Regions from separate parts of the Homo sapiens genome. Here region 2 is linked to region 1. Evidence: fine-mapped expression QTL. Tissue or cell type: whole blood. Region 1 holds a variant in brackets; the other region holds the start of a gene. All regions are shown on one strand. Distances are from middle to middle.

What was found. PIP is the estimated chance that this variant, and not a neighbour inherited with it, causes the effect.
Region 2: SEPTIN4 starts here. The variant in region 1 is the best candidate, but not a certain one, in a credible set for the expression of SEPTIN4 in whole blood (TOPMed, PIP 0.53).

The regions. Positions count from the first base shown.
Region 1 is chr17:59,053,635-59,059,012 of GRCh38, reverse strand. It overlaps TRIM37 (tripartite motif containing 37), which reads left to right. Exons shown (of 24, transcript NM_015294.6): 13 at 1,959-2,138. Among named protein-coding and RNA genes, the nearest start is that of TRIM37, 51 kb to the left of the region's middle. The variant A/G (reference allele first, on the strand shown) is at 2,346.
Region 2 is chr17:58,541,193-58,546,570 of GRCh38, reverse strand. SEPTIN4 (septin 4) reads left to right here and starts at 2,243. Exons shown (of 14, transcript NM_001368771.2): 1 at 2,243-3,945; 2 at 4,605-4,649. The coding sequence starts at 2,385. SEPTIN4-AS1 (SEPTIN4 antisense RNA 1) reads right to left here. Exons shown (of 5, transcript NR_110810.1): 3 at 2,973-3,114; 4 at 1,900-2,035.

The DNA of each region.
Region 1 (5,378 bases):
TTTTCTTTTCATTTTCTTGATAATGTGCATTAATGCACAAAAGTTTATAGGCTATCTTCTTTGTCTTTTTGTAAACCTGAAAATTTTACAAGATTGGATATATAAATTAGAATATATTGGCTTTCCCAATGTATACTTCTTTTCTTTTTGAGACAGGGTCTTGCTGTGTCACTGAGGCTGGAGCACAGTGGCACAATTATGGCTCACTGCAGCCTCAACCTCCTGGGCCCAGGTGATCCTCCTGCCTCAGTCTCCCAAGTAGCTGGGACTACAGGAATGCACTACCGTACCCAGCTAATTTTTTTGTTTTTTGTTTTTATGGAGACGGGGTTTCGCCATGTTGCCCAGGCTGGTCTCAGACTCCTGGGCTCAGGCGATCTGCCCACCTCGGTCTCTTAAAGTGCTGGGATTACAGGTGTTAGCCACTGTGTCCAGCTTACTTATTTTCTTTTTCCTTTTTCTTTTCTTTTTAACTTTTATTTTAGGTTTGGTGTTACGTATGAAGGTTTGTTACATAGGTAAACTCATGTCATGGGGGTTCATTGTACAGATTATTTCATCACCCAGGAATTAAGCCCAGTACCCAATAGTTATCTTTTCTGCTCCTCTCCTTTTTCCCACCCTCTGCCCTCAAGCATACCCCAGTGTCTGTTGTTTCCTTCTTTGTGTTCATAAGTTCTCATCATTTAGCTCCCACAATATAAGTGAGAACACGTGGTATTTGGTTTTCTGTTCCTGTGTTAGTTTGCTGAGGATAATAGCCTCCAGCTCCATCCATCCATGTTGCACAAAAAACATAATCTCGTTCTTTTTTATGGCTGCATACTTATTTTCTATTAGGAAATTTTATAGCCTTTGATTTTCTGAATACACAATAATTTGCTTTCTTATCACTTGTACTGGCAAAATACAGTAGAGTATTTCAAAATTTATATTTTAAAATTGCAAGGTGATAAACCTCAAAGGATAATAGAAATAACAATATTTATGAGGAAACATATGTAGTGAATATATGGAAAAAATATTGCATTAGTAAAACAAAAGCAACTTTGAATTACTTGTTTATTCAAAATTTATTTATTTTTTGAGGTGTTGTTTTATACCTGATATATCGGTAAACATCTTTACGAGGAAAAAAGGACCTATTGCCATTCATGTTTTGGTGGTTCGTTCAAAATACTGCTGTTTTGGCTGGGCGCAGTGGCTCACACCCGTAATCCCAGCCCTTTGGGAGGTCAAGGAGGGTGGATCATCTGAGGTCAAGAGTTTGATACTAGCCTGTCCAACATTATGAAACCCTGTCTCTACTAAAAATACAAAAAATTAGCTGGGCATGGTGGTGTGCACTTGTAATCTCAGCTACTTGGGAGGCTGAGGCAGCAGAATCACTTGAACTGGGGGGCAGAGGTTGCAGTGAGCTGAGACCCCGCCACTGCCCTCTAGCCTGGGCTACAGAGTGAGACTCTATCTCAAAAAAGCAAACAAAAAAATACTGCTCTTTTTCTGGCCGGGTGTGGTGGCTCACGCCTGCAATCCCAGCACACTGGGAGGCCAAGGTGGGTGGATCACCTGAGGTCAGGAGTTCAAGACCAGCCTGGCCAACATGAACCCCCGTCTCCACTAAAAATACAAAATTAGCTAAGCATGGTACACGCCTGTAATCTCAGCTACTCTGTAGGCCGAGGCAGGAGAATCACTTGAACCTGGAGTCAGAGGATGCAGTGAGCTGAAATTGCACCATTGCACTCCAGCCTGGGCAACAAGAGTGAAACTCCATCTTAAATAAATAAAAAAACCCCAAAATACTGCTGTTTTTATAAATGATAAAAGAAATGTAACTGCGTATATCAATAAGGTTTCTTCTCAGGTAATTACTTAGTGACCTTAATGTTTAGATGAGTTTGTTTTTTATTCTTACTTTACTAACTGTATAGTAATGGTCTGTTTTTCAATTTTAGATATGAATATCGTGTAGAGATGGTTCACCAGTCCTGTAATGATCCTACAAAAAATATCATTCGAGAATTTGCATCTGACTTTGAAGTTGGAGAATGCTGGGGCTATAATAGATTTTTCCGTTTGGACTTACTCGCAAATGAAGGATACTTGAATCCACAAAATGATACAGTGATTTTAAGGTAACAGGAAAAATTTGATGTTGTGGTTTTTATTGTGGGGAAATAATATCATCAGAACTATATTTCAAAGATCATTTGGTTAACAAAGATGAATATTGAAATTCATACTAACTATAACCTTATCACCTTTTTTTTTTTTTTTTTTTTTTTTTTTTTTTGGAGACATAGTCTCGCTCTGTCGCCCTGGCGCGATCTCGGCTCACTACA[A/G]GCTCCGCCTCCCGGGTTCACGCCATTCTCCTGCCTCAGCCTCCCGAGTAGCTGGGACTACAGGCGCCCGCCACCACGCCTGGCTAATTTTTTACTATTTTTAGTAGAGACGGGGTTTCACTGTTTTAGCCAGGATGGTCTCGATCTCCTGACCTCGTGATCCGCCCGCCTCGGCCTCCCAAAGTGCTGGGATTACAGGCGTGAGCCACCGTGCCCGGCCCCTTATCACTTTCTTAACTGTTTTATTTAAGTGGATAATAATCAAAAATTTGTAGTCAAAAAGTCAAACTTTTTTTGACATCTAGTTAGCAATTCCATTAAAGATAAGCTGGGTGCAGTGGTGCGCCGGTGTTTCCATCTACTATGGAGGCTAAGATGGGAGGACGGCTTGGGCCCAGGAGTTTGAGACCAGCTTAGGAAACATTATGAGACCCCCCATCTTTTTAAAAAGAAAAAAAAAAGGGGGTGGGTGGGAAACTACAACTTCCAGTAAGTATAGTAATGTTCCATTTGTCTGTTGAACTTCTAGTGACCTCACCATTTGGAAATCTAAGAATAGTGAGGGATAAAGTGCTGATTTTTTTCACTTCACAGTGCATATTATATTTGAGTGACTGGTTTTACAACTTAATTTTATAAAGCAACTATCAGTTCTTTGTCAATAACAGCAAATTAAAAGTAGAAGAGTCAAGATGAAAGTTGACGAAAACCAGCAATTTTCTACTTTTTTCTTAAACTTTTATTTTAGGTTCAGGGGTACATGTGTAGGTTTGTTATACAGGTAAACTCACATCATGGTGATTTGGTGTACGGATTATTTCATCACCCAGATACTAAGCCTAGTACCCAATAGTTATTTTTTCTTATCCTCTCCCTCCTCCCACCCTCCACCCTCAAGTAGGCCCCAGTGTCTGTTGTTGTTACCCCTCGTTATATCCTTGAGTTCTCATCATTTAGCTTTTTTTTTTTTTTTTTTTTTTTTGAGATGGAGTCTCCCTCTGTCGCCCAGAGGCGACATATCGGCTCACTGCAAGCTCTGCCTCCCGGGTTCACACCATTCTCCTGCCTCAGCCTCCCAAGTAGCTGGGACTACAGGTGCCTGCCACTGCATCTGGCTAATTTTGTTTTTGTATTTTTAGTAGAGATGGGGTTCCACCGTGTTAGCCAGGATGGTCTCGATCTCCTGACCTCTTGAGCCTCCTGCCTCAGCCTCCAAAGTGCTGGGATTACAGGCCTGAGCCACTGCGCCCGGCCCATTTAGCTCTTAAATAATAAGTGAGAACATGTGGTATTTGCGAAAACCATCAATTTTTTTTTTTTTTTTTTTTTTTTTTTGAGACAGAGTTTCTAGTTGCCCAGGCTGGAGCGCAATGGCGCGATCTTGGCTCCCTGCAACCTTTGCCTCCCAGGTTCAAGCGATTCTCCTGCCTCAGCCTCCCGAGTAGATGGGATTGCAGGCACGCGCCACCATGCCTGGCTAATTTTGTACTTTTAGTAGAGATGGGGTTTCTCCGTGTTGATCAGGCTGGTTTCTAACTCCCGACCTCAGGTGATCCACCCACTTCGGCCTCCCATAGTGCTGGGATTATAGGCATGAGCCACCACGTCTGGCCAAAACCATCAATTTTTATTGTTGATTGTTGGTGTAGTATTTACAAGAAAGGATAGAACGTAAATACTGACTCAAACAACAGCCCTATTTAGCCAGGTGTGGTGGCTCACGCCTGTAATCCCAGCACTTTGGGAGGCTGAGGCAGGCAGATCACTTGGGCTCAGGAGTTTGAGAGCAGCCTGGCCAATATGGTGAAATCCTATCTCTACTAAAAATACAAAAATTAGCCGGGCTGTGGTGGCACGCGCCTGTAATCCCAGCTACTCAGGAGGCCAAGGCAGGAGAATCGCTTGAATCCGGCAGGTGGAGGTTGCAGTGAACCGAGATTATGCCACTGCACCCCAGCCTGGGCGACATAGCAAGACCCTATCTCAAAAATAATAATAAAGTAAATAAAAACAACAGCCCTGTTTAACGTGGGGTAGTCTTTACAGGTCAGAAGTTTTTGGGCATTGGCTGGGTGCCGTGGCTCACGCCTGTAATCCCAGCACTTTGGGAGGCTGAGGTGGGTGGATCACCTGAGGTCAGGAGTTCAAGATCAGCCTGGGCAACATGGTGAAACCCTGTCTCTACTAAAAATACAAAAATTAGCTGGGCATGGTGGCAGGCACTTGTAATCCCAGCTACTTGGGAAGCTGAGGCAGTTGAATCGCTTGAGTCCGGGAGGCAGATGTTGCAGTGAGCCGAGATTTCACCAGTGCACTCCAGCCTGGGCGACAAGAGTGAAACTCCATCTTAAAAAAACAAAAAACAAACAAAAAAAGGTTTTTGGGTATCATTACATGATGTTATAATTTGATGATCAAAATAAGAACTTGAATATTTAAAAAAGATTAAAATATGTTCTGAACTGAGAAGTTTCAGAGTATTTAACAGTTTAAAAAGTTCTCATCACAACAATTTTAAACATTTTTTTCTTGAGAGTGATTTAATGTACTCCTGAATTTCCCTTATTCGGAGCTCTTTGTTCTTGAGCATACTGGACAGATGAGTTGCTATCATATCAGCATTTACTCTTATGTGTTTTCCGTAGCTTTTCTGGAAGTATAAAGAAGTTTAACAAGGGATATGATTTTCAGTGTAGGGAAAAAGATATGTTTTTGTTATTGTTTTGTTTTGTTTAGAGTCAGTGTCTTGCTATATTGCCCAGTCTAGTCTAGAATTCTCGGGCTCAAGTGATCCTCCTGTCTCAACTTCCCAAGTAGGTAGGATTACAGGTGCATGCCACGGTGCCTGGAATCATGTTTTTTGAGGGGAGGGATTATTTTAGTTTTCTTCGTATAGCTTTTCAGACTTTTGGGGTTTAACTATTCACCAAGAGAAATAATTTATTGCTATTTCATGCTTCAGCCATAGAGAGAATTACAAAATTATTCAAACATCAATTTTACCAACCTATAAAAGACCCATTTTCTTATAGC
Region 2 (5,378 bases), 510 kb after region 1:
GCTAGTACTAGGATGCTGGGAAGTTTATAATAAGACTATGTAAATTTATAATTAAATGTCTACATAGTAAATGCATAGAAAGAAATGTGGAAAGATGCTTATTAAAATAGTAACGGGGTCCTCTTAGGTGATTTCAACTTTTTATAATTATTTGTAAAACTGTTTTCTAATTTTTTAAAATATTTATTTATTTATTTGCTGGAGATGGGATCTCACCATGTTGCCCAGGCTGGTCTCGAACTCTTGAGCTAAAGTGATCTGCCCACCTCAGTTTCCCAAAGTGTTGGGATTACAGGCTGGGCCACCACACCTAGCCAAAGCTGCTTTCATTTTGGGGAATAGAAAGGGTTTAGAAATACTTAAAACTGGCTGGGCACGGTGGCTCACACCTGTAATCCCAGCACTTTAGGAAGCCGAGGTGGGTAGATTATCTGAGGTCAGGAGTTTGACACGAGCCTAACTAACATGGTGAAACCCCATCTCTACTAAAAAAAAGAAAATCAGCTAGGCATGGTGGTATGCGCCTGTAATCCCAGCTACTCGGGAGGCTGAGGCAGGAGAATCACTTGAACCCGGGAGGCAGAGGTTGCAGTGAGCCAAGATCACGCCACTGCACTGCAGCCTGGGCAACAGCCTGGGCACAGTTTATTTGAAACTCCATCTCAAATAAAAAAAAAAAAAGAAAAATGAAGCTGACCATCCTATAATCTCAATGACCCTTCAGAGTTCATAATAGAATTTTGGATATGGTAGAGTCTATGTCTAAAAGAGAGAATGAGAGAAAGAGCATGTGAAAGGGAGAGAAAGGTGACAGAGTCTCCTCCAAAATGGTCATCCAAATTGGAAAGTCACTTTTCAAGAGAGAACCGGAGTCCGGCTGATTGGATAGCTGACAGGATCATGAGAAAGGACATTAACATTTGTTGTGTGACACCCATGTACCAGGCAGTGGTTTCCAGGTGAAGAAACCAAGTCCCAGGGAAGGCAGGTAATTTCTCCTAGGTACACCTGTAGTCATTTATGATGGAAACCAATGATTAACTCCAAATTCCTTCTTTCTTTCTTTCTTTCTTTTTTTTTTTTTTTTTTGAGATGGAGTCTTGCTCTGTCACCCAGCCTGGAGTGCAGTGGCACGATCTCAGCTCACTGCAGCCTCCGCCTCCCAGGTTCCAGCGATTCTCGTGCCTCAGCCTCACGGGTAGCTGGGATTACAGGCACGCACCACCACGCCTGGCTAATATTTGTATTTTTAGTAGAGATGGGGTTTCACCATGTTGGCCAGGCTGGTCTCAAACTCCTGACCTCAGGTGATCCACCCGCCTCAGCCTCCCAAAGTGCTGGGATTACAGGTGTGAGCCACTGCACCCAGCCCAAATCCCTTTTATTTTGTTTTTATTTATATATATTTTTTGAGATGGAGTTTTGCTCTTGTCACCCAGGCTGGAGTAAAGTGGCACAATCTCAGCTCACTGCAACCTCCAACTCCCGGGTTCAAGCGATTCTCCTGCCTCAGCCTCCTGAGTAGCTGGGATTATAGGTGCCTGCCACTATGCCTGGCTAATTTTTTTGTATTTTTAGTAAAGACGGGGTTTTATCATGCTGGCCATGCTGGCCTCAAACTCCTGACCTCAGGCAATCCACCCGCCTCGGTCTCCCAAAGTGCTGGGATTACAGGCGTGAGCCACCGCACATGGCAAATCCCTTTTATTAATAAAACACTAAACTCTCCTGGAGCAAGAATGTGAGAATTTTATTATTTGAGCAACCTGGATTTTTACCCCAGGAGCAATGAAACAATCCATGAGACCTGGAAAAAGCTGAAGCTCTCTTTTTTTTTTTTTTTTTAACTTGTATACAGTACAGTTTCAAACAAAATTGGGGCAACTTTGTACTTCGTACCTTATTAAAACTGGGGCGAACACAGCGTGTTTGGTTTGATCTTGTCTTCATAGGATCTTCTGGCTGATTCCTTCTCTGGATGAGTCCTGAGAATTTCTAGAATCTCGGGAGAGTAAAGGAGGGTCTGGAGCCTTCTCTATGTACAAGGAAATCCCAGTTTTGTTAAAAACTTGCCAAAGGCTTGGTGATATAACTCCAAAGACAAATCCACAGATTCCTTTCAGGTACTTCTTTGGGATTCTGTGAAGAATTGTGGCTGTACACTAGGATGTTTAATAGGAAGGAAGCTCCTTCCTTTATGACATCACCAGACAGAGAGGTAGCTAAGGGGATTATTTGAGACACTCTTAGAACAACAGCCACTTTTGTGGGAGCCCAAGAAACAGCAGCTTTAAAACAGGGTAAATATTCAGGCATCATTAGGATCCTGAATACAAGCCAGCCAGTAAAATACGGGATCTACTCAGAAGGGCACAATCTATCAGATGGTCAAGACAAATAAACCTGGGGCCAAGGTAGCGGTTTCAGCACAGAGAGGGTCTGAGGTTACTACTAACACATCCCCTCAGCAGGGACATGGGTACGTTCTTGCCTCAAGCCATCGAAGTGCTGCAGTCTCCCTGAACCCTTCCCACCGAAGATCAGAAGCTGCACATCCCACCACTCCCCATTCAGCATCAGACTACCCTCGATCTGTCTCCCTCCAGTCAGGACCTGGACACTATGCAGTACCCACTCCTCGGGGACCCGAGACTGGACCAAGAACAGAATCATCCCGCCATTCCTCTCCCCATCTAAAGAGCCAGAAGACTCAGACACTGGCTTCCCATGCTTCAAGCAGACAATGGAAAGTTAGTCCACCCAGAGAGGAAGCAGCACGAAGAGGCAGTGAGAGCAAGTCAGGGCGCGAGGTCGGCCATCATGCTTCATCAATCCCAGATGCCAAATCTACTCATCAGTTGAGTTTTCAAGACCAGAAGAATAACTTACAATCACAAATCTTAGAAGATGACCCACCATCCAAGGTCCAGAACCCCCAAGGAGTCAGAGTTCCCCGTAGGATTTTGTCTTACCCAAAGGATGAAGCAGTACAAACTGAGCCCATCCAAAGAATTACGACTACTAGTGAGATCAGATCTCCAAGGAGTCCCTCTCTCCTAGAGCACGGAAGCAGCTGTGTCTCTGCAGACTATCAGACAGCCCAGAGAAGGGTCCCTGTAGAAGAATCAGAAACAGGTCCTTACGGTCCAATTCCTTCAAAACCCAAGGCCTTGTATAGGAATATGAACTTGGACTCATTGCTCAAACTCTCTGTCCTTAAAGATTCTGATGGTGTACACCGAGTTTCTGCACGGGTAGACCCTGAGTCTCTTCATAAGTATTCTGCCTATCCTGAAACCAAGCCCTCCGCAAAGGTCTTAGTATCATCACAGGTGGAGTCCAACGTGAGGACCCCAATCCGAGGAAACAGCGAGGTTGGCCGCAGGGTCACCATCTCCCCAGGGGTACAGTCAGTAGAGCCAACTCACCATGTGACAGTTCCATCAGTGTCTGAGGGCTCCCACAAGTCATCCATGTTTGTTACTCCAGAGCCCATCTATAAACAGCAAACCCAAAAACCCCCAGAAATTACTTACATGTCCCAAGGACCTACACCCAGGTATCCAGAACTCTCGCAAAAGCCCTCCATCCATGCAGAACTGGAACTGACCCCTAGGCCCTTGCCTCCTCGGTCCTTACCTAGGTACGGACCTGACTCCTCATGGTGGCCCTTGCTGAATCCTGAAGTTGAAACACCCCAAAGCCAGCTGACAACACCGGATTTTGAGCCTAAGTGCTCTCCTTCCCTAGATCTTTTATTGTCCGGTTTTAAAATAGACTCTAGCCCTTTCTGTGAGGATCTGAAGTTCCAGAGAGAGAAGGCAAGCCTATCACCACCATCACCACCAAAGGAGTTTCCAAGTTGGGCACCACTGAGTGAAGTGCCACAGACCCCCAAGCACACCTGCAAACAACCCATTCAAAGGTTTACTGCTTTCTTCCTGGGTATGTGAAGAAGCAGACTGCCCAGGTGCAGCCCCAATTTAGTGAGATGGGATGTTGGGGTGGGCAGGAAAGACCACCTCTTCATTCTGGGCCTAAGGGCTGCTCTCCTGCCAGTGCCAAAGCTAGTCCTATCCTTGAGCCTATTGCTCCATTCCTTCCCTGCCAGCTTCTCTGTGCTCCAAGCTAATGACATTGATGATGGATGCTTGGGCCGGGCGACAGGCATTGACTCCTCCAGGCAACACTGCTTACCTTTTTAATTGAAGGTAGTAGAGAGGGGCTTGCAGGGTTGAAAGCTGCTTCCTGAGTGGGGATGAAGAACTGAGCTGGGGTGAGGGCTGGCAAGGGCTGTTAAATAGAATAAGGGCCTCAGGTAAATACTCTGGCTACAAAGTGGAGAGGGTGGGATGCAGATGAGCTGGGATTCCAGGAGGGGAAAGGCATTCACAGTGGCACAGAGAGAGGGTGTAAAAAAGAGAAAGGGAGAGTGGGAATACGATATATAGTCCTAGGCTGGAGGAGCTTCTTGGAGAGGACCAAGGGCTGAGGGCACCTTTGAGTGGAGAAATGTGGAGCTAGAAAGGGAGCTGCAAGTAGTGGAGAGTGGGATGTGCATCCCACAGAGAGAAGAAAAGCAACCATCTCTCTGTTACTTTCAGATGTCTCTGAGGAAATGTACAATCGTGTCATCTGGTGGCTAAAAGGTCTGTGCTTTTCCCTCCTATGGGCCCACTGTGGGAGCTTGGGGGATGGGAGGACAGGTGAGGAGTGGCATCTATGTATCTACAGAGCTGGGTCGTTTAGGAGATAAATGCTGGGATTTTGACCTGAAGAAGCAGAGGAACTTCTCATCTTGCTGAAAATTTCACCATTAGAGTCATTTCTTTGGGGCTTGGAACCTTTTCCATTTTCAAGAGTCTCCTTTTAACAGGAAGTTACTTCTGGAATGGAGAATAATTTAAGCCTCATGGCCTTTTCAGCTTAGTTGGTCATCTATCACATGATTTTAAAAAATACACCAAAGCAAACCGCCTGCTTCACAGTCTTGCTCAGAGTTGACTTCACGCTAATTCAGGCTGGGGGCTCTTCTCATGTGTTTCTCTGGTTCCTCAGAACCCTCCTCATGCCCCAAGTTTACCACCTGGGGTACTTATTGGTGCTGCCCAGGCAAGATCTTCAGAGATGTCTGGGCCTCCCCCTTGAGGCCATCAGTGTGTCTTGCAGCTCTAGAATCCTTAAGAGAAGTGTCCCCAGGCCTTGTGACCCTCCTCTCCCTTTATACTCTTGGCCTCTCTGGGGGCAGGGGAGGGTGGGGACAAGACCTCAAGGAGTAAATCTTGGCAGCAGGGACTTCTTGCTGTGAGCATTGTGGCCCAAAATATACTCCAGCCCTATGAGCATGACAGAGGCCAGGGCTATGGATAAAGCAGTTC